2 separate regions of the Homo sapiens genome follow, and region 1 is linked to region 2. A link means that fine-mapping ties the variant in region 2 to the expression of a gene that starts in the linked region. Tissue or cell type: whole blood. Region 2 holds a variant in brackets; the other region holds the start of a gene. All regions are shown on one strand. Distances are from middle to middle.

Region 1 (2,500 bases), 22 kb after region 2:
AGTCCTGAGCTCTATGCCCAGACGTGGGTTCTCCACTTGGATGTCTAATGGCCATCTCAAACTTAGCATCTCCAGACCGAAAACCCCAAATCTGTTATGTTATTCCCCCAAAGCCCAAATCCATAACTTCCCCTTGGCATCTCTCCCCCAAATCCCTCCCTCACTGCACTCTTGCCTTTCCCTCCTCCAACAAGCCAAGCTTTTCCTAACCACAGGGCCTCTTCAGGAACAGTTTCCTCTGCACAAAACTCTGTTCCCCAGACAGATCCTTTCACCTCCTCTGAGGCTCTGAACGCCTCCCTTCCCACCTCTGCTTCTCACTCCTTCACATTAGTCTGTTTCATTTCCTTCATTGCACTTATTATCATCTGAAATTATGTGTTGGTTTACTTATTTTCTCTCACACTTGATTTTTTTTTTTTAGACCGAGATTTGCTCTGTCGCCCATGCTGGAGTGCAATGGCACAACTTCACCTCACTGAAACCTCCGCCTTCCGGGTTCAAGCTATTCTCCTGCCTCAGCCTCCTGAGTAGCTGGGACTACAGGCGCCCGCCACCACGCTTGGCTAATTTTTTTGTATTTTTAGTAGAGATGGGGTTTCACCATGTTGGCCAGCAACTGTGCCTGGCCTCACACTTGATTTTTAATCTCCATGAGAGCAAGCACTAGGTCTTGCCTGGGCCTTTATCAATAGCAGTGAGCATAGCACCTGGCACAGAGGTAGTTCTGAACATTAATTATTGAATGAAATAAAATAATGAATGTAGGCTGGGCGCGGTGGCTCACGCCTGTAATCCCAGCACTTTGGGAGGCCGAGGCAGGCGGATCATGAGGTCAAGAGATCAAGATCATCCTGGCCTACATGGTGGAACCCCGTCTCTACTAAAATACAAAAATTAGCTGGGCATGGTGGCACTCGCCTGTTGTCTCAGCTACTGGGGAGGCTGAGGTAGGAGAATCACTTGAACCCAGGAGGAGGAGGTTCCAGTGAGCCGAGATCATGCTGCTGCACTCCAGCCTGGCGACAGAGCAAGCCTCTGTCTCAAAAATAAATAAATAAATAAATTTTAAAAATAATGAACGCAGGCCCAAGAAGAGTTGTGGGAAATGGGGTGATATTTTTGCATAGACTTCTAAGGCTAAGAAGGAAAACAAACAGACGTGGTGGGCACAAATCTACCCCCACCCCAACTGGGTCCCAACTCTAGGCTCTCTGGCCTGGCACCACCACTGAAAGGCCCCGTTCCCCAAACCTCAGGGTATTCTTAGTCCCTCCTGTTCCCAGCGCTGCCAATCCCCCGCCCACCCCCACTTTAGTTGCGTGTTCCAGCCTCTCCGCCCCGCCCCTCCCCGCCCTGAAACGGACGTGCTTTTTAGAGGAGTCCACTGGGCTTGGAGTCAGTGGCAATAACCAGGGGCAATAACCAGGCGTGTCCCAGGGGGGAGCCCCGCTCTGCAGCCCTGTGCGCCGTAGAGAGCTGGACTTAGGCTGGCAGCATGGCCGAGTTCAGGGTCAGGGTGTCCACCGGAGAAGCCTTCGGGGCTGGCACATGGGACAAAGTGTCTGTCAGCATCGTGGGGACCCGGGGAGAGAGCCCCCCACTGCCCCTGGACAATCTCGGCAAGGAGTTCACTGCGGGCGCTGTGAGTGCGTGGGAGTGGATGGGGTGGAGGTGAAGGGGGCGAGCAGGAGGGTCCGGCCTGACGCATACTTAACCTCCCCTCAGGAGGAGGACTTCCAGGTGACGCTCCCGGAGGACGTAGGCCGAGTGCTGCTGCTGCGCGTGCACAAGGCGCCCCCAGTGCTGCCCCTGCTGGGGCCCCTGGCCCCGGATGCCTGGTTCTGCCGCTGGTTCCAGCTGACACCGCCGCGGGGCGGCCACCTCCTCTTCCCCTGCTACCAGTGGCTGGAGGGGGCGGGGACCCTGGTGCTGCAGGAGGGTACAGGTGAGGGGCGGGCCGGGCTGGGGCTGCAGGGGGAGCACAGGAAGGGGTAGGGGACTGGGGGTTGGGGAGAAGGGCAGGTGAAATGGAGAGGTGAGCTGGTGTGGCCACAGAGTAGCGGGCAGAGGAGAGGGAATGGCGGAGCCTTGGGGAGCGGGAGGTAGCAGCCTGGTGTAGGAGAAACTGTACTTATGGGAGGAGGGGACCTGGTAGAGGGTGGCAATCGTGGAGACTGTGTGGCTGGTGGTAGTGATGGTGAGTTTCTCTCCCCACCCCAACCTACTCCCCTTCTCCCACAGCCAAGGTGTCCTGGGCAGACCACCACCCTGTGCTCCAGCAACAGCGCCAGGAGGAGCTTCAGGCCCGGCAGGAGATGTACCAGTGAGGAGGGGGTTACTGATGGGGGAGGGTGTGCCCAAACGATGAGGGGCAGCTTGAGTGTCCTGGTCATGACAGAGATTAAAAGCCCCTGCCTCCACCTCTCCTATCAAAGCTGCTCCTGGGATCAGCAGCGTCTACAGGAACGTATTAGAAATGCAAATTCTCAGGCCACCT
Region 2 (2,793 bases):
GGGCTGCCCCAGCGGAATGGGCAGCGACACGCGGCAGAGATCGCCAACATGTCACTGGACATCCTCAGTGCCGTGGGCACTTTCCGCATGCGCCATATGCCTGAGGTTCCCGTGCGCATCCGCATAGGCCTGCACTCGGGTAACTCCCGGGTCTTCCCAGGCTCCAGCCCATCTCCCTCTTTAGGGCCTGGCCCCAGATTTCCTGTAGAGGAGGCAACTCATGGAGCGGGGAGTGGGGCTTACCTTGAAGAGGATGCACTTAACAAGGCTTATTTGGGGGGCTGGTGGAGATAATGGGTGCGAAGATCCCCCGAGGCCCTACCTAGGTGCAGCCCAGGGCCGGCCCTGCTAGCCCCGCCGACCCCCAGCATCTCCACAGGTCCATGCGTGGCAGGCGTGGTGGGCCTCACCATGCCGCGGTACTGCCTGTTTGGGGACACGGTCAACACCGCCTCGCGCATGGAGTCCACCGGGCTGCGTGAGTGTGACGGGGACAAGACGGGGAGGTGGGAGGGGGACACGGGAGGTGAGTCCCGAGCTCACGGCGTCCCCCACCGCCACAGCTTACCGCATCCACGTGAACTTGAGCACTGTGGGGATTCTCCGTGCTCTGGACTCGGGCTACCAGGTGGAGCTGCGAGGCCGCACGGAGCTGAAGGTGAGGCAGGGCCCCAACCCCTCCCGGAGGCCCCGCCCTGTCCTGAGGCACCGCCCATCCCGGGCCGCGGCTGCAAACCTCAGCTCACCCTTCTGACCTGGTCTCCCAGTTCCACGCAGACTCGAGATCCCCCACCCCTCACCCCAGTCCGCCTAAGTCCTTCCCTCTCCCATGTCTCCCCAGGGCAAGGGCGCCGAGGACACTTTCTGGCTAGTGGGCAGACGCGGCTTCAACAAGCCCATCCCCAAACCGCCTGACCTGCAACCGGGGTGAGGGGCCGGCCTCCGCGGCAGGGCGAGGGACGAGGGACCCCTGCCTCCTGCTCTGTGTCTGACCCCCCGCGCGCGAGGCAGCGATGACGTGGGCCCTGCCCTCCCACGCCCCATTCCCCTTCCCTGAGGCCACCGCCCCCTCCTTGCAGGTCCAGCAACCACGGCATCAGCCTGCAGGAGATCCCACCCGAGCGGCGACGGAAGCTGGAGAAGGCGCGGCCGGGCCAGTTCTCTTGAGAAGTGAGGCCCGGCCCCGGACAGGTACTGCCCCCTCAGCCCCAACCCCAGCTGCCGCGTCCCCTCTGCTGCCTGCAGAACGTCCCACCCAAGCCAGGTGTCCCGATCCCTTTCTGACTTAGAGAGCCCAGGCTGGTTCCTAAACCCCGGGGCTTCCCCTGGGAGGGAAGCAGCCATTGCAGGAATTTTGGTTCAGTAGATCTGGAGTGGTTTGGAAATCCAGGCTTAGGAAACTCCGTAATCGGGGCCTTCTGTGGCCCCTCCCCTGGCCCTATCTCATCCCCAGTGCATAAACCTGGCTTCCGCAGAAGCCTCACAGGCTGTGCACTGCACAAGAGACAACTCTAGGGGGCAGCAGTCACCAGAG[A/G]ACAATGTGAAAGCAGAAGCCGTGCCCACTCCCCTCCTGCAAGAAACTGACCCGTGACCCGCTCCTTCCTAGGTGAACCCCCATGACCCCTTTCCTCGACTCCCCTCTGAGATACCCCTCTTTTCTTCAGGATTGTTCTGGAAGGTCCTTTTCCTGAAAGTTGCTGCTATAGGTGACTGGAAGTCTGTCTAATGCTGGTGGACTCTGCCCAGCTCTGCCTCAAAGGATTTTGGGCCTTTTACAAGAGCTGGTTGCAAAACCAGCCATGTGACCTTGGGAAAGTGTCACGCATGCTCTGCTGTGATCCCTTCAGTGGCAAAATGGGGGGTGGCCTAAGTGGTTCCCAAGGCCCCTGTGCACCTGACAGCTGGGTGGCTTGTGGCCCTCACCCCCAGGAGCCCTGAGTCCAGCAGGGGATGTGAGGGTCAGGGATTCTCCGCTTCCCAGTGTCTCTCAGGGACCCAGGAAGGAGGATCTGGGATTGATGCCCGACCCCAGAGGAAGTGGAGTTCTGTTCCACCAGAGCAGGGTTTGTCACATGGCCTGAGGGGGCAAGGGCTCCTGTTTAGCCTCAAGCTTCATTCCTATCTCCATCTCCCACCAGTCAGAAACTGGCTGCTTCTCCTGTGGGTATAATCAGGGAACTTGCCCAAGTGCAGAGAAAAGCTTGCTTCAATGCTTTGAGGAAAGGAAATTGTGCCACACCTTGACTGACCAGAACATCCAAAGAGCGGCATTCTCTGTTTAACTAGGAGCTGCTGAGCAAGCAGTTGGACAGAAAATCCTCTCTGCTTAGAATTTTTTCTTTTTTTTTGAGTCTCACTTTGTCACCCAGGCTGGAGTGCAGTGCAGTGACACAATCTCGACTCATTGCAACCTCCTCCTCTCAGGTTCAAGTGATTCTCCTACCTCAGCCTGCCGAGTAGCTGGGATTACAGGCACCCGCCACCACGCCCGGGTAATTTTTTTGTGTGATTTTAGTAGAGATGGGGTTTCAGCATGTTGCCCAGGGTGGTCTTGAACTGACATCAAGTGATCTGCCCACCTTGGCCTCCCAAAGTGCTGGGATTACAGGTGTGAGACACCGCGCCTGACCTTTGCAGCAATTATCAATGCCCTGTCCTGGCAAGTCCCCAGTTGAAGTTGCCTTTGTGAAACTCTGACCTTCCAGAGCCTGGGCCTTGGCACATTTGACTCTTGGTGTCTGTCACCATTGCTACAGACCCTGGAAGAAGTTTGCAGCAGGCTAGGAAACCACC

Evidence for each region. PIP is the estimated chance that this variant, and not a neighbour inherited with it, causes the effect.
Region 1: ALOX15B starts here. The variant in region 2 is fine-mapped to the expression of ALOX15B in whole blood (INTERVAL, PIP above 0.99). The same link has a PIP of 0.9 or more in blood mononuclear cells and monocytes.

Annotation. Positions count from the first base shown.
Region 1 is chr17:8,037,658-8,040,157 of GRCh38, forward strand. ALOX15B (arachidonate 15-lipoxygenase type B) reads left to right here and starts at 1,402. Exons shown (of 14, transcript NM_001141.3): 1 at 1,402-1,645; 2 at 1,729-1,948; 3 at 2,245-2,326. The coding sequence starts at 1,499.
Region 2 is chr17:8,015,364-8,018,156 of GRCh38, forward strand. It overlaps GUCY2D (guanylate cyclase 2D, retinal), which reads left to right. Exons shown (of 20, transcript NM_000180.4): 15 at 1-139; 16 at 380-478; 17 at 564-658; 18 at 842-927; 19 at 1,080-1,191. The coding sequence ends at 1,167. Among named protein-coding and RNA genes, the nearest start is that of GUCY2D, 14 kb to the left of the region's middle. RefSeq lists a silencer at 1,372-1,552. The variant A/G (reference allele first, on the strand shown) is at 1,535.